Homo sapiens: one gene and its partner. The protein of the gene in region 1 interacts with the protein of each later gene in a biochemical or structural test. Each region holds a gene or a part of one and is shown on either strand. Other genes may lie near its edges. The genes, in order: TRIM58 and DYNC1I1.

Region 1 (9,579 bases):
ATTAGCCCTGCAGACAATTAAACAAAAAATATGTCCCCAAAGATTTGCATTTGCTTTTCTTTCTTCCATGTGGATTAATTGATTGGGAAGCCAAGGGTTTGGATGAGCATTTGTTGAGTGTGTATTAGATTCCAGACACTCCATGTATAATGCTTTATATAAGCCTTATAAAAGGACCCTTTTCGTCGCAGAAGGCATAGGCAGAAAGACTTACATAACGCACCAGGGTCAGAGGAAGGGTGCATTAGAGCACTATTGTCTGAAGGCAGGTCAGCTGCAGCTTCATTGTCTGAATTTCAGTTTAATGCACTGCTTTCAAGACAGTTACGGAAATTGCGGGGATTGTATTAGTGGAATCTAGTTCAAAGGGCATCTAAGGAAACGTGTAAATATTAGTTATGGGAATGATGCAAAGTTTCTGGTTCTGCTAAGTAATTCAGGAGCTAGTAAGAGGGACAAATGAGGGAGAGACCTGATACACGAATTGAAGAGAACTTCTACTGCTGAGTGGTAGACAAGGTCAGAGGGAGAGGGAGTTGACAAGGAAAGCCGTTCCGCAAGGGCCCTGGGAGAGTGTTGGAGATGGAGCCATGTGGATTGGTACTTCTTATCAGCATTTTCATCTAGGAAGATTTGTTCCTGCTTTTCTTCCTACCCTGCCATCAATTAATCAAATATATATGCTTCTTATCTTTCTTTAAATCTTATATAAAGCAGGAGAAAATACTCTTTTATAACTCATGGCATTTTGTCTTCTTGTGCTATGGAGTGTGTTTGCGGAAGATTCTTGAATTCACAGACATTCTTAACGCATGTCATATAACTATGAAGAGCCAATACGTATTTTTTGTATCAAACTGATTTACACAATAGGATTTACACAAACGGATTTAACACAATATGGAACACTGGATCCATATTAGCCCATTCATTGCAGATTCATTGCAGAAGTCTGTATATCTGGAAAAATGCCTCAGTGCCTTTCTCCTCCTCATTTTACACAGAATAGAGATAGCAAGGGGGTGTTGAGGGATCACTTCAAACTCATTGGAGAGCTTTTGTGGGCTTTCCTTGGAGAAGTGGCTAGAGAGGCCTACTATGGGTGTTTGTGCATTTATCAGCTGGAACAATGCGATCTATGCAAATACAGTTGGATCTGGGCTGCCTCCAAAGGCTATCAGAAAACCCCACAACTTTGCTGTCCCATTCCAACCACCCCAGCCACCCTAGAGCATCATTCGGACAGACAAAGCCTCTAATTCACAGTAATCCACAGGATGTCAATGCTGGCAACCACTGGGAAAGAGAAAAGTAGGGTCTATATACCACATCCAGTGGTGATAATTGTGAGTGTCATTGATATCCATTGCCTACCAATAAAGACTAAACTGTTTGGCATAGCATACAAAATTAGCCATGATCTCTTTCCCTGCATTGCCACCTGAGTGGGAGCCACATCCAGTCATACTAAAAATACAAAATCAGCCAGGCGTGATGGCATGTGTCTGTAATCCCAGCTACTCAGGAGGCTGAGGCAGGAGAATCGCTTGAACCCGGGAGGCAGAGGTTGCAGTGAGCCGAGGTCGTACCATTGCACTCCAGCCTGGGTGACAGAGCAAGACTCTCTCAAAAAAAAAAAAAAAAAAAAAAAAAGAAAAAAAGAAAAAAGAAAAAGAGAAAAAAATGCAGGGTTCAGTTGCGTGAATGAGGTCCTTTTAAAGCCAGAAGCAGGGAGGAAATGCTGAGTCAGCGGCTGCTAGTCTTGAGGGCTGTGCTTTTATTTTTGGCATTGTGAATTTGCCAACCCAATAGTCCTATAGACACACACACACACACACACACACACACACACACAGAGAGAGAGAGAGAGAGAGAGAGAGAGAGAGAGAGAGAGAATTTGACCCTTCTGGTCTTAGAGCTTGAAACTTACTTTTGTTTTATCTGAGTTCCTTCCTCAGGAAAGGACCACCAGCCCTCTTGAAAAGTAAAGTAACAAAGAACTGAAACTTACCGGATCACCCCAGGTCATCTCAACCAGTTAATGAGATGCCAGTCCAGTCCGCTTATTCAACATGATTGCTTCCTTACCCCTCCCTAGTTCCTCTTTTTCCACACAGTGTGCTATTTCTTCCCTGCCTCTATATAAGCCTCTAATTTTAGTCAGTCAGGGAGATGGATTTGAAACTGAGCTCCTATCTCCTCTGCTGCAGCACCTGATTAAAAGCTTCTTCTTTGGCAATAATCGTTGTCTCAGTGATTGGCTTTCTGTGTGGAGAGCAGCAGGACCTAGACCGAACTCCTGGTTTTTGGTAACAAATTGGGCTGATTTGGGGGCTATGGAGCTAGGAGATTGTGAATCCCCAAAGCTGAGGCAAAGGGTTTGGCCATGGAGAGCTGAGAAACTCTGTGAAAAGGGTTCAAAGTAGGGAAGAAAATATTGCTGTCCTGAAGAAATGGTTTCAGGAGCCCAAAGCCATGATACCAAAGAAATTACAAAAAAGAGCAGGGAGGAATAATGGTCAGATGACGGCAGATCCCATATTTTAAAGATGTCACAGAAGGCAGGACACAACTGAAGAGGAATATTAGAGAAGGAGGATGGTTGCAGGTGGTATTAGCTAAAAGATTTGCAACTCTGCAACCTGTAAATGAGTCACAGGGTGGAGTTAGCCTATAAATTAAGGAGTGGGGTGCATTAGAATTTGGTCGTATTGGCATAAACCAAGAGGTGCTTTATTTACGCCAAAAGAAAGCTCATGAGAAAATACAAATTTAAGTTAGAGTATTCCCATTAAACCAGAAACTGCCTGGCGAGGCACTCCACATAGCATTTGTAAATACAATGACATCTGGATATAATCCAGTCCACAACTTACCTGCATGGACGTGCTGTAAGGGAAATGTGTGTTTCTAAGAACAATGGTACCGATGTCATTCCTAGTCAACCAGTGTCAGAGACAAAACAGTTTAAGCTCAGCAACTCTAGGACCAGCAGGGGAAGAAGTGAGCTCGCCCACTCCGTCACACCCTACTGAAAACCACAGTGACCCCCAACGTCAGAAGCCAGGGGCCTTTCCTTAGGATCACAGGCACTAGGAAATCTGAATTTAAGTGAGCCTAGTTATCAACTGGCCCATATATTTGAGTAAATGGATTGTTTTACTGTGTCTCGTTATGCCTGCAAAATAGAAAAATGCTCCAGCATCTGCCAGAGTTATGGAGAGCCAGGGCAAGATCATATATGTAAAATGCAGAAAAACATGGATTTGACATTTGACATAATATAATCATCTTTGAACTTCCCTCTTTCATTAGCTCCTATGATAAACTGTCCTAATTCTGTTCATTTACTTATTAACTTGTTTAATCAGTTAGTATGTGTGGAGTGTCCATTTGTGCCAGTTACTCTTCAAGGTCCTGGGGATAGATAGAGCAGTGAACAAAATAGAAAAAAATCTCTCTTCCTAATGTAGCTTACCTTTTGACTCACCATCCTTCCATTCACTTCACTATTTCATTTCCTTTTCTTCAATTAAATATATTTGCTACATGGCCGGGCGAGGTGGCTCACACTTGTAATCCCAGCACTTTGGGAGGCCAAGGTGGGGAGATTGTTTGAACCCAGGAGTTTGAGACCAGCCTGGGCAACAGGGCGAAACTCTGTCTCTACAAAAAATACAAAAATTAGCTGGGCGTGGTGGCGGGCACCTGTAGTCGCAGGTACTTGGGAGGCTGAGGTGAGAAGATCACTTGAGCCTGAAAGGTAGAGGCTACAGTGAGTCAGGTTGTGGCACTACACTATAGCCTGGGCAGCAGAGCAAGACCCTGTCTCAATATATATACGTGTGTGTGTGTGTGTGTGTGTGTGTGTGTGTGTATTTCCAACATGCCAGGACCTATATTAAGTGTCTACTATCTATTAGCTCGTTTAATACTCTGAAAGGCCTTATATGAATGACACTAACACCTCTTCACTGCACGTCAGAAGAAATGCAGGGCAGAAACGCGGCACAGCTTGCCTCAAGCTTCTCAGCAAGTGCCACAGCCCTTAGTCCGGAGCCAGAGTCTGTTTTTCTTTGCTAAGCCTTCTGCTCTTTAGCTTTTTTCTCTAATGCCACATCTTTCGTGTTTTGCTAATACAGATCCATGTGTGTTCTCCAAGAATCTATTCGCTTTAATTGCGCACTTAACCTTTAGGCCTCAAGATCCTCTGCTCTGCCTGTCGCCAGAGATCCAGCCCAAGAGTTTGTCCTTATAATGAAGACCCACAAACCCCAGAGGATCCCCAAGGACCTGAGTCATCTGGCCCCGCCTCTTGCTGCAGCCTTATCTGCTGCCACCATATTCTGGCCCAGCTTGCCAGCCTGCCTGGCTTCTCACTGTCATCTGGGTATGTCTTGCTCCCACCTGCTGAAGTTTACCTTGTACCTTTCATGGCTTCTGGGGGCACGGCCTTGCGGAGCCCCCCTTCCCGCTGGCCAGCTTGTGTTCACCTATCAGAGGTTTGCTCAGAGACCTCAGGTGTCTGCCCCCGACCCTGCAGCCTCATTCAGAGTCCTCTGTTATATTCCTGCAGGACTGGTGAGCGACCTTCCTTGCAGTTATTGGTTTGTAATTATATGTTTGCATGATTTCATATCCACCTCTTCTAGTTGATCTTAAGGCTCCTGGAGAAATGGGGTCCCACCTCTTTTCCTTAACATGTGTATTTTCAGTACCCGGTGCAATGTCTGAGACTCCTGGCTACAAACAGACACAATGTGTGCTCAGGGACAGATTGATTTGCCACAGGTACACCCCACCATCACTTCAAACTCGACCATACTAAAGTTATTTTGCACAGATGCAGACACTGCCTCAGACTTGTCGACTTTCTGGACGACATTAGAGACTTTAATGTACTTTATCCTGATTCAGCCTTCCACTGGATGAAGTAACATACTCTGTCAAATCATTTTGCTCCTGTCTCAGCCTCCCCCATCTGACAGGTACACCACTGAGAGGCTAAGCTTGAATTATTCCTCTGATGAGTATCTCTATAGCTTTGTCATCTCCAAGACTGGCTTTGCAACAATCCTACAACATGTGTGTATTCCTTGTAGGATCCTCATTGAACTAGGCCAGATATTTATTTAAATATTTAGAATTATTTTTGGCTGGGCTGTAAACCTATAGTTACACACACCTATGCAGGCATCTTCCCGTGTCAGGCGGTGTCTCATTTCTTTATCAAGAGGTAATTAGTGCAAGAGAAAAAAATGAAGTTTGAAAAAAACATTTAAAAATTGATTATGCCATATAAAGGGGGAAAGCCTTTTAAGAAACGATTATGGCATGAGAGGACCATGGAGTAGCTCAGTAACAATGGAAGGGGCTCGGAGGGTGGAAGGCGGGCGAGGGATGAGAGATCACCTAATGAGAACAATTTACGCTATCACAGCGATGCCTGCGCTAAAGCCTAGACTTTATGCAGTGTCTCCATGTAACAAAACTGCACTGGTACCCCAGAAATCTGCACTAAATCTATATAATGATGATGGAGGCTGGGCGCGGTGGCTCGCGCCTGTAATCCCAGCACTCTGGGAGGTCGAGGCGGGCAGATCACCTGAGGTCACGAGTTCAAGACCAGGCTGACCAAAATGGTGAAACCCCGTCTCTACTAAAAATACAAAAATTAGCCGGGCATGGTGGCGGGCGCCTGTAATCCCTGCTGCTTGCGAGGCTGAGGCAGGAGAATCGCTTGAACCCGGGAGGCGGAGGCTGCAGTGAGCCGAGATCGCGCCACCGCACTCCAGCCTGGGCGACAGAGCGAGACTCCCTCTCAAAAAAACAAAAACAAAAACAAACAAACAAAGATGGAAGGAAGGAGGGAATTTAGCAATTCTCCAGATCTACTGCCAGTGAAAATAGCATATGAGGAGGGATTCCAGTTAGAAATGCCCAGTTTCCTGGGTGTGTGTGTGACGGGGGCGGGGAACCACAACGTTAATTTTATCCCCGACATAGGGAGCGCCTGAGTGGTGGCTTTTCACCGGGTGTGGCTCGTCTGAGCTCTTGAACTGAAGCCAGCGGACACCACCCGTCGGCGCCTGCTTTCCTGGGGCGTGGGCTCCTCCCCCTGTGCAGACCGCGAGGGGAGACGGTGCGGGCGGCCGGGAGCGCAGCCCTCCGGGAGGCGGGTCATGGCCTGGGCGCCGCCCGGGGAGCGGCTGCGCGAGGATGCGCGGTGCCCGGTGTGCCTGGATTTCCTGCAGGAGCCGGTCAGCGTGGACTGCGGCCACAGCTTCTGCCTCAGGTGCATCTCCGAGTTCTGCGAGAAGTCGGACGGCGCGCAGGGCGGCGTCTACGCCTGTCCGCAGTGCCGGGGCCCCTTCCGGCCCTCGGGCTTTCGCCCCAACCGGCAGCTGGCGGGCCTGGTGGAGAGCGTGCGGCGGCTGGGGTTGGGCGCGGGGCCCGGGGCGCGGCGATGCGCGCGGCACGGCGAGGACCTGAGCCGCTTCTGCGAGGAGGACGAGGCGGCGCTGTGCTGGGTGTGCGACGCCGGCCCCGAGCACAGGACGCACCGCACGGCGCCGCTGCAGGAGGCCGCCGGCAGCTACCAGGTGAGGCGCCCCCCGGCGGGGGCTGCGGGCGCTGCGGTGACCGGGAAGCGGGCGACAGTCCGGAGCGGAGCCGCCGAGGCCACCCGTCTCCTGAGCGGCTCCCACGGCCGCTCCCCCCACCGCGCGCCGTCCCCCCCGCCCACGCGGCTCACTCAGTGTGGGTCTCTTTGCCTTGGCTGTGGTAACCCCCTTTGCGACACACACCCATTATTTTACACCGTCCGCCCCTCCCCCAAGCACTCTCCTGTCGTCGAACTCGCGCTGGGCTGGTTTCTCCCGATGCGGATAGTCTGGTCCCTCAGCTGGGCTCTGGTCGGGAGGGCTGTGTGGTCCAGTTCATTCTTGGTAACAATTGTACGTCTATATCGTAAACTTGCCATAATAATTCTCATTTGTGCAATGCTTTGCTTTTGCACAGTGTTTACATTAAATGAGTGTTGTCAGCAAAGCAACCCTCGGGTTTGGGCGTTGTTAAGAAGAGTGTCGAGCTGGGTACGGGTTCCGACCCCTCCAAAGCTCAGGTGCACGTGCCTCCTGAAGTAGGAGCGGGTGGCTCTCCATCAGCAGGGATTTGGGGACTTAGGATTCGAACATCCTCAATGAAGAGGTGCTTCATTTGGGGTGTAGCCCGGGAAGCTTCAAAGAGAAAGAAGAAAAACAAAATGGGAGTATTTGGTCCCCAGAGTGGCATCTGTGAAATTGTGTGTCGATTTCTTCCTACTGGTGCCCTTCAAAAGTTCTTGGATGTTTTCTGAACACACTTGAATCCCAGCATGTAGAACAACTGCCAGCACAGAGGAGGTCTAAGTCGTCTTTACTGACAGATTTAACCAAAGGACTGTCAGTCGCGCTGTAGTGCATTGCAAATACTTTCTTAAAATTTTTATTTATTTATTTTGTTTGTTTTAAATTAAGGTTTAGGATATTTTCCCCTTCCTTCTCTACCAATATCTCTCTTGGTATTTCTTCTTGATTTTCGTTGTCATTTGCGAGATGTAGGTACTAGTACTAGGTAATTTCTAGCTAAACTTTTCTGGAATGTTCTTGCCTTTTTAAAAAAAGTCCAGAAAGAGGATTGGTAGTAACTTTTTTTTTTTTTTTTTTTTTTTTTTGAGACGGAGTCTAGTTCTGTAGCTCAGGCTGGAGGGCAGTGGCGCAATCTCGGCTCATTGCAACCTCCGTCTCCCGGGTCCTGGTGCAAGCAATTCTCCTGCCTCAGCCTCCCGGGTAGCTGGGATTACAGGTATGCGTCACCACACCCGGCTAATTTTTGTATTTTTAGTAGAGACGGGGTTTCACTGTGTTGGCCAGGCTGGTCTTGAACTCCTGACCTTGTGATCCATCCGCCGTGGCCTCCCAAAGTGCTGGTGTTACAGGCAGCCCAGCCTCTAGTGTAATATTTCTAAAGGTGTTCTCCATATTTTCAGTAGTTCTTCGGTTAAATACCAAATAAATATTATCTAAACTCCTGAGCCTCTCAGTGAAAGCTTTCTAGGGCCCTAAGTTATGTTTCCATAGCTCTCTTGTCTTAACCAGCCAGGAAACCCAGCAAATTTAGCCGAATCACTGTTTTCCTAACTGTGCTACATCTCCTTGCTTTTGCTGACAGTTTCTTTGGCCTGAGGGAGCTTTTCTTTATCTACAAGTGTCAAAGTGCTCCGTTCTTTGTAAACACCAAAACACATGCCACTTTCCCCACTGAGTCAAATGGTATCATGAATTCTACTGTTATTTTATATATAACAATTATAATATTCTCCTTTTAAAAACAATTGATGTGTATGTAGGATTTATTGAGTAACTTTGGGAATATAATTTTTTAATTAAAATCCTGTTTATGTATGTATCTTTGTGAGTATTTAAAATACACATATTTACCTCTAGTGAGCGCCCTATCATTGAAGGAAGATTTAGTTCTCATTGTATTTTTACTCATTGCAAGGTTTACAACATACTGTGTTTTTTCATATAAAATATGATAACCTACCAAGTTCCTTCTGACCTAATAATACTACTAATACTACAATAATAAACCCATGCTTTATCATAAAGTAACCAATAACTTCAAGAAGTTGAAGTTATATAGAGAAATACAGAATACAGTTATATAGAGAAATATATAAATATAGAGAAATGTATAAATATAGTTATATAGAGAAATATATGAAATATAGAGATATAATAGCATCACTCTTCATCCAAACACCAATAGATGACATTTTATCTAATATCATTCTCATTTACATCAGCCCAGTTTTAATATATTCATTACCAGCACATTTTTTTTCAAAATTCATGTTGTTTTGTAAAATATTTTTATTCATTGGACATTATCATTGTATTTCTAGTCATTAAACATTCTGTAACATCTTATTTTAATTCTATCCAGTTAATATAATTTTTTTCTCCCCTATCTTTAATGTTTTAGTTTAGTTATGCTATCGTATATAACAATGCAGTGAGCATACTTTTAGATAAATATTTGATTGTATCTGGTATTAAAATACATTTAAGGAGCTAGGCCCAGTGGCTCATGCCTATAATCCCAGCACTTTGGAAGGCCAAGATGGGAGACTCTCTGGAGGCCAGCAGTTTGACACCAGCCTGGGCAATATAGTAAGACCCCATCTCTACAGAAAACAAAATTAGCTGAATGTAATGATGTGTGCCTGGAGTCCTAGCTGCTTGGGAGGCTGAGGTGGGAGGATCATTTGATCCCAGGAGTTTGAGGCTGCAGTGAGCCATGATCGCAACACTGCACAACCTGAGTGACAGAGCGAGACCCTGACACTAAAACTTAAGTACATTTATGTTTAGTTTTTAATGATATTGAACATTTTTATGTGCTTTCTAGGGACTGTTTAAGTTGACTTTTGTATTTCCTCACACATCTGTGTGACGTTAGGTACAGATTGAGGGCATCTGTAACAGCTGAAATGTTCCCAAACAGGTAAAGCTCCAGATGGCTCTGGAACTT
Region 2 (8,671 bases), on another chromosome or scaffold:
ACACTATAGATATGGTAAATCATGAACTGCGTTATAAAAATACCTCTTTTGTGCCCAAACATTCAGTAGGAGGGAATGACATTTCTTTTATTACCTTGGTAAATGTTTTTAAGGTGTTTAGCAATAAGCCTTCTTTTTGTCAAAACTGCTTAGACGCAGTGGTTGCTAAGAATTTATTAGAAAACCTATAGTTAATAATATCAAGAAAAGAAGGGATATGTGTTTAGTAGCTAATATGACAGTTGAGCTTGTGTAGCACATGCTTTTGCTTTTTCCTACCATTTTCTTGATCTTTTGTGTTATGGAAAACAAGTTATTCATGTTTAGAAAGTTTATTTTTCATTATTGCCCATCAACCAGCGTTTTTAGCATTTTCTCCATCTTTTGGGCAGAGAAATAGATTGTTCCAAATAGTAGGGAAAAAAATAAGGCGAAAAGATTTCTGAGGAAAGAAGGATGATAAGATTTTAATACAAATGTGAAGAAGACTATTCATCTTTAGGTCTTTGTGAATTAACTCTTTCTTCGGATATTTGTTGTTGTTGTTGTTGTTGTTTTGTTGTTGTTTTTCTTCCACAGGTAAAACCTTCAGAATGTTGTCATGCTTCCTATAATGCTAAATTTTAACATGAAAAATATTTTACATGTTACTTTCTTAAGATAGTGTTTAAGGAGAAGGATATATATTTCCTTCTATATTCGCTGGCTTATTGAAATTGATAGAGACCCATATTTGTTACTATTTACTTGACTTTTATGTCCTACTTTTATTTCTTTCCTTAATTAGGTGGTAATGGATTTTTTAAAAAGTGTTACTGTAAAAAAAAAACGTGGTAAAAATAGTAAAAATAAACCACTCCTTTAAAGATACAAGGGAAGAGACCTTTGGCAGAGAGGTCTGAAGCTTCATGGGTGGATGAGGGTTCCCTTAGATGGGATTTCCAGATGAAAAGAAATTAAAAAACAATCAAATACCATCTGACCACCATAGGTAAGAATGTTGCTTAATTTTACAGAAATTTGTACCTATTGACTGGTAATAGCAGACTGTGCTGTACAGAGACTAATGTAACTCCTACTTTGTCGACTTCTTTGAAACTGCTCTAAATAAGTTACATACCATATATCTTTTTGTGGTAGAACACTGTAGTATATTTACACCCTCTGTATATTGCATTCTAACTTGGAATTCTGGTCCGTGGTTTCATCCATTGTTAGCTGCGATGCTAGACTCTCCCGGGAGTTAAATACAGTGGGGCTGTATTTATGTGAAGCGGGTATGCTTGGTCGTTCAGTGGCTGTTTCATTGCATATTACCTCCCACTTTGCTCCCATCTGTGTGTGTGGTAAAGGGAATTGTCCTAAAAAATACAGGCTTCCTCTGAACACAGACATGTATTTGTATACCAGTAAGTCAACAATCTCCTGAATTTGGGTGCCATTAATAATTGTCCTTTTTAAAAGGCTTTTAGAGCTTAGAGGGGGTTAGCAGTCGTTCTGTGGAAACCGATGTACATTTCCACATTTTCTGTAAATGCATTAAAAAATAATGTGTATTAAAGTGAAAGGAAATCTGTAAGATATCTTTTTAACAGAAAACTTTAATTTTTAGATTAATACAGAGATGAATTGTCGTGTATCTCTTGGAAATCAATGGTTAACATGATAGTCTCACACACTTTTTAAAATTACTTCATCTAATTGAAAAATTACAAAGAGGCTGATGAGCCACACATCCATGGAATATTTATCTTGAAACCTAGAGTCCTACTCACTTAATGTCTTGGCCATACTTCATGTATCTGAGAAACCAACTGAAATCAGAGCGCTTTTCTAACGTCTTAATTATGCAAGATTTTAAAAAAAGAAAACTAAAGTAAGCAATACCTGAGACAGATATTTTTACTATGAAAAATATTGCACTGGGATGGTGAAAGTTACTGCAGATAATGCAGCTATTTAAAATTATTATAGCTGCAATTACTAAAAAATGAGGAAGGTTTGACTGAGAACTATTCAAAATAGTTATTAGCCATGTGATTATAAAAAGGAACACATGAATGATATTTGCATGTTTAACCCTGGTTATAAAAAGTCATTTGATTTTTTTAACAGCATGTACAGCAGTTACAAATCCTTACAACTTTAGGTAAAAATGAAGAATCCCACTGTGGAAAGTGCCACAAGGAAAGAGCTGGATTAGGATGTATTAGTCACATGTGAAAAATAAAAAATATGTATGTGCATGTCTACATATGTGTGTGGATGTGTATAGTTACAATAAATACTTATATTTTAAACTTGATTTTTAAACCAACAATGGAAAGTAGCAACTCTGAAAGAATTTTTCTTGTGATTTGAAAGAACTCTTTCCCTGTCCCCCGTTCATGAAAGTTAGCTATTATTAAAAGCCTGACTACTTAGGAAATTATTTGTGTGGGTATTTCAGACATAAAATGTGATAAAATATAAGGTATACTTCTAAAAAAAAAAGTACAGCTCTAAATAGGTGAAAAGAAGAAAGAGAATATGCAAGGAAGAAAGAAAATAAAAAAATTGGAAGAAAGGAATAAACATTAAGAAGGAAAAACAACATCATGTATTCAGGGTTTATAGTGTACAAGCACTGTGTTAAGCTTATTACATTTTTTTGTTTTATTTAATATACAGTCCTAGAAGATGGATCTTACAATTTGTTTCACACAAATGAGGAAGTAAAGATCAGAAGTGTTAAAACCATGCATTCCCTAAAGACACACAGCAAGTTAATGGCAAATCTGGGAAAGAAACCAGGATCTGGCTGGTGAAGCAGAAAAAAAGTCAACCCTGGCTCCATTCTCAAATGTTATTACTCCACAGTCTGTGCCTCCCTTTAGGTATACAGGACACCCAGGCAAGGCGAGCAAGGGTTAGACTGATAAGTTTTTCAGGGGTGAGGTGGGACCGGGTTCAGAGGCAGCCTCCAGTCCACTCAGGCAGAGAGGAGGGGACTGATCCCTGACATGGTCCGAGAAGTAGTGGGGTAGCCTGGGTGGTGGGGCTCTGGGAGGCTAAAATGATACATTTTCATGAATTTTTCCACAACTTTTGCACTTTTGCTTTTGCTTGTAGACTTTTTGTCTTCCAAGAATCTTAGAAGATTTAAAACAATCTTTACAATCTTTGAGCAGGTGATTCAAAACACATTACCTGCCTGCCCTTCTGTCATGGAATGCTGGCATTTCTCAAAGGGGTGAGTCTTGATTGCCCCACACTAACAGGTGAAGGTTATGTGGTCTTTAGCAAATCATTTAGCTCCCTATACTGTCCTCTCCTACCTGTTAAAGAAAGGTCTACGCCCTGCTTCTTAACATCCTCACATAACAATCAGAATTAATTCCCAAGGAAATTTTTTTAAAAAACAGAAAAATACTGTAAAATTGGTATGCATGCCACAAAACGTATCATTTTGGGGAGCTGTTCAATTTGACTGACAATTTAAAGAAAAAGAATGCATGACAATCCATGATGAACTCATAGTACTTTCTTTACTTTGATTACCTTTCTCATGCTCTCCACATCTCTGTTGATGAATGGGTCAGATATCATCATCCTTATTTTACAATTGAGGCAGTGAGAGGGTAAGTGCCTGACCGTTGCCAGCAACCAAGATAAGAACAGGACTTGAGTCTCCTGTCCAAATCTGAGGTTCATTTTACCTCTTTCTTATGTCCAAATTGCTACCTCAGTAACTACCTTTGCCCTTAGTTTCATTGGCTGTAAAAATGGGATTGTATCATATCTATAAAAGGTGATCTCTTTTAGAGTTAAGATTTTATTATCTCAGGAATCTGAGCCTCAAGTACTTTTGGCATGAAAATGCTTTATATGTTTAGCAAAAAATTAGAAAACAGTCATTGAATCAGGAGATGGACTGGCTGTTGGTGAACTCAGTCGATGAAGCAGTTGGAATATCTGAGTCATCCCTAACCTATGATGCAGACTTCATCAGAGATGAATCTGGAGGCAGAAAATGTTTCCAGATCCACATTGACTTAGAACAATGCTGGGAAATTTTTGAAGTTTTTTTTTTTAATGGTGTTCCCTTAATTGAACTATACATTTTTAATTGGTCAAAATAACTTATGATCTTTTTTCCTATCACAAACATAAATTGTTTGGAAATTATTCTAAGCTATTATTCTCAGAGAAAAAATCCATAGTGATACTCTAGATTTAGCCTTTATGCCTTAATAGAAACTTGAAGAGATGCTGAAGCAATGTTATTAACATGCCATTTGCCTCCCTGTTACTTGCTTGACACACAACAGATATCAGGAAATGTTACAGTTGTCACTGAAGGAAGGTAAATTTTAGGCTATTCACTTTTTAATGTCAGTGAAGTTTTTTTAATGCCAGTATTCACACAGTTTGACCTACAAAAAACATAATTAATTTTTGTCTGTATTTCATAGTCTTCATATTCCAAAATGATTCACTACTGTATCTTTAATTCAAACACAGTGCCTGACATATAAATGGCACTCAATCAATGCTGATTGAATGAGTATTGAATACATTTATATGCAAGGTAGGACATGAGAGCAGTCTGTTCTGTAAGAAACATGAACAAAGATTTTTCCTATTTAATGATTAAGATAGTGTTGGATTAAAAAATCTCCTAGAGAAAATCATAAATGCATTTATGTTCTTGAGCCTACTTTCTAGCCATTTCTAATCAGAGACTACCACGTGAGAAGAGCCAGGAACTGCCAAGGGTAAGAAGGGCAGTTCTGTCCAAACAGATGCCATTTACAGTCATGGAAACAGCAAAGTGAAAAGAGTGGCCCTGGCCCTCTTGTTTGTTAGGACACCTGTTTGGTCTTACCTACAAGTAATTCTAATGCCAAAAATTATTACTTTGGGTGTAGAAACAGCCTGTGAATACACATTCACACTTTCAAGCTAAGATGATACTTAAAGTACTTCCTGATGGTGATATTTAATTCTAAAAATGGGGCAGTCTGCAGTTCACCTTCTAAATCTAACATTACAATCACCTTGGGTTATTTTTACAGTCAACAAGATGAAAAGGATAGTAGGATGAGGTAGATAAATTGATTTCAAGTTTCTAGGAGGAATTGTGTTTTCATCATGTTCTACTCTAGAATTTTTGTGAAGCAAGAAAATAAATATTTCTGTGAAAATTAAGATACCATGAAAAGGAAAAGACTTGGCAAAACAAATATCCCTAAAAAACAAACTTCAAACATTTTGCCAGTCTAAATGAAACTTCAGCAGATCAAAAAGAGGACAAGATGTGTTAGATTACTGTGACACTTTTATGAGGGTGAATCTATATTTCTAAGGGCATGTGTTAGTATTACAGCACTATTACTCCCACCTCCATGAAGAAAGTCACATGTAGTTCACTCGCTGGCTTATGTTTTGTGTGTTTAACAGAAACATTTAAATTTGATAAAACTCATTTTTATGAAGTTATGTAATTTTTGAGATGTGTAATTTTATATAGTGTAAATGAGACTCACTTCTGTTCTAAACTGTGTGTAGACATTTATTCAAACCTTAATGTTCCATAATCTTTACTAGGGCCGTTTCTGAACAGTCTTGCCATGACTACTACATGAAACTATGTAAATACATTTACCTATTTTATTGTTAATAGTCTATAGTTTCTACACATGGCTATCAATAACATATTGCATAGGTCATCATGTATTAACTTAAATTTGTACGATTTTAACTAATAATATAGCTTTATGTTTGGGAACCAAACTCAGCTCTTTATGAGCAAGGTACTGTGTATTATTGAGACCTATTTTTTTCTCCAATATTTAAAGTTATATGAAGTTATGGGGCATTTTAGCTTTAGCTTGATTCTTACTTTATATGGGAAAAAGTTATAAATGTGTTACCATGATTAGGCTTTTGTCTCTTCTTGGGCTTTTGTTTCATGGTTATTTTTGGAAAGGCTTGCTCAGCGGTTGGAAGAAGGAAAAGAAATAGTGGTCCTATTCTTTTACATAAATGTGATACCAACCCTTAGTTGGTTATGGTTTTCGTGAGCTTGTTTGTATTGTACATTTTGGGGGCCTCATTTTCCAGGTGGAGTATTTTCTAAAATTGAAGAAAAAAAATGAAGAATCGTGGAATATAGGAAAAGAGTCCAAAGTAGGGAAAACAGACTGAGCAAAAGGGTATCAGAATCATTCAAGACTATTGTGAACTTGTGTTATTGCCTACAAAGAAATTTGGATTCATTTCAATAATTATAGTAGCATTTAACCATTCAGAAACTCATTCATGTGACTAAGTAAGAATTCTTATTGGTACTGCACTTCGCAAAATAAGTCAGAGAACTTACTTTCCTTGCCTCTATATCATTTCCAGAATTATATTCTTGAAACATTTAGCCTTAATACCAGAACACTAATTTAAGGATATACTTTGCACAATGAAGTTGCCACTTTCCAATAAGTTTTCTTGGACAGATAGTATTTGAGAATATTATCCTTGTAATAAAAATTTTAAGTTCTAATCATTTGGCTCTGTGTGGTGGGAAATTTTCCAGCTGTAGAAGCAATCTCAAAGCTTAGGTTTATTTGCTTCCTCTTTTTTCATTAAAAAATATATTAATTGAGATGGCTGTATGTTCTTAATGTTTATGGAATATGTGGATAGTGTAGTGTAGCACTAGTACCTATAGGTAAATTACACTATATTATAGCGTAAAACTCCAAGAAAATGCGTGTAAAATCTAAATGAATTTTATTCTGTGTGAAAAGCATTCAGACTTCTACTAAATCCTGTTTCTCATCCTCAAATTTTTTTTTCTATCCCAGATACTTGCATTATATTTTTAAGCAATTTATTTTTGGATGCTATGTGGAGAAATCATTATCCTTTAAAACGACTAACAAAAATTCATACATTCAGTTTGCATTGGAGGAGGCGTTAATTTCCTCCTCACTGAATTGTACACAGAAGATGTTTTGGAAATTTTATAAATCCCCCTTTTTGATGAATCAGTATAGCATACTGGCTAAGGATGCTCATACTGGAACCAGATTCCATTGACACTTATATTTGCTTGCTATGCAACCTTGGTAAGATTATTTAATCTTTCTGTGCCTCTAATATAGGAATGTGAGGCACAATAGGATTATTATGACGAATGAGTTAATGCATGTAATGTACTTAGAACAGAACTCTTGGTAAATAATAGCTACTATTACTACTATTCATAGTTATCATCATATAAATCTTACTGGAAAGGCCCAAGTACTATTTCATAGGAGGAATATTTCTTTGTATATATAAGCTATTCTTTTGCCCTTCATACTGCCCCATCAGCAACACTTTAGAAAAAGGATTAATACCATTGACTAGGAATAAAATATACAGTTATTTGAAAATCTTGGTCATTATATGCAGTTTTTATTTGCGTGTTCACTGTAAGTCTGGTCTTCTTATGAAAAAAATTTCATTACTAAAAGCACTTTGATGTGGCTACTGTAATTGTATAGTTTGCATAGGTTTTTAAAGTTTTATAAATTATGTGAGTGCTTTTGCTTCCAAGAGTGACATGGTTCTCTTGTTAGTTTAAGAGCAACACCTCAGGCCCTGCTTGATCCAAAGAAGAATGTTTGATTTCCTTTACATTCCAAGGGAAACATCTGCTTTGGAGGGTGTGGGGGCAAAGGGACAGTCATTCAGGCTTCAAGGCTTTCAGACATGAAAGATATCTTGTTCATCATTTCTCCATTGATTTGCTTTGCAGCTTGCAGTTCCCCACAATGATGAATGGACCCGATTTGCCAGGACCCTTGTGGAAATTCGTGCTAACAGAGCTGATAGCGAGGAGGAAGGCACTGTTGAGTTATCTGCCTAGTGGAAATGAGCCACCCCCACTGCAGCCCCCACCTTTGTGTCCTAGAGCTCAGCGTCTGCAGTCAAGTCTCTTGTATTCGGTGTCCATTCAGTATCAGTATTGCTGTGATATTTTGGGTGCCATATTGTGCCAGCTTTGCTCCAAGTATTCTAAATGTGTCCCATCATGCTTTCCACTGACCCAAAATTCACCACAGCATTTCTATCTTTATATTTCTGTCTCAAAAATGAAGAGAAGGGGGTTATGGGTTAAGTTGCTGCCTTTTAACTACTTTGTAGCTGTATTTAATAGCTGGAAACCTCTGGTTAAATTTGTGCTTACATGCACTCCTGGCATAGTCCTATTAAATCCATATGAAGCCAGATATGATTGGGTGCAGATGTGGTGTTCCTCATATTATGGTACAGGGCCAAAGACTTGAGACGTGGTGTTTTACATGGTGACTCACATTATGAATGGATTTACTAGAAGAACATTGCTGCTCCTTATTTATTGTAGTGTGCTGCATGGAACGTATTTATTTGAAAGCATTAAAATAAATGATCCTAGAGCATGTGCATAATGAGAGGACTGTATTCTCTCTGCTGCTGTTGAGGTTATATTAAGTTCCACATAGCAATTACAGTATGCCAGTTCCACTGAAGACATGAAATCTTTAGAGGTTTCTTGCAGTGAACGAAATGAATTTTAATGCCTATTATTTCTGGGTACTTTAACAATATTTCAAATATCATTGACCACTAATACTTCTCACTGAAGCTAACACAGTCTGACAAAAGT

What was found.
Region 2: the proteins of TRIM58 (region 1) and DYNC1I1 form a complex in vitro, tested with the Homo sapiens proteins (one study listed by BioGRID).

Annotation. Positions count from the first base shown.
Region 1 is NC_000001.11:247,851,065-247,860,643, forward strand, and holds the start of TRIM58 (E3 ubiquitin-protein ligase TRIM58), read left to right. Parts: upstream 1-6,122; 5' UTR 6,123-6,182; coding exon 6,183-6,602; intron 6,603-9,552; coding exon 9,553-9,579. UniProt on the Homo sapiens protein: E3 ubiquitin ligase induced during late erythropoiesis. Directly binds and ubiquitinates the intermediate chain of the microtubule motor dynein (DYNC1LI1/DYNC1LI2), stimulating the degradation of the dynein holoprotein complex.
Region 2 is NC_000007.14:96,089,703-96,098,373, forward strand, and holds part of DYNC1I1 (cytoplasmic dynein 1 intermediate chain 1), read left to right. Parts: intron 1-7,780; coding exon 7,781-7,891; 3' UTR 7,892-8,671. UniProt on the Homo sapiens protein: Acts as one of several non-catalytic accessory components of the cytoplasmic dynein 1 complex that are thought to be involved in linking dynein to cargos and to adapter proteins that regulate dynein function.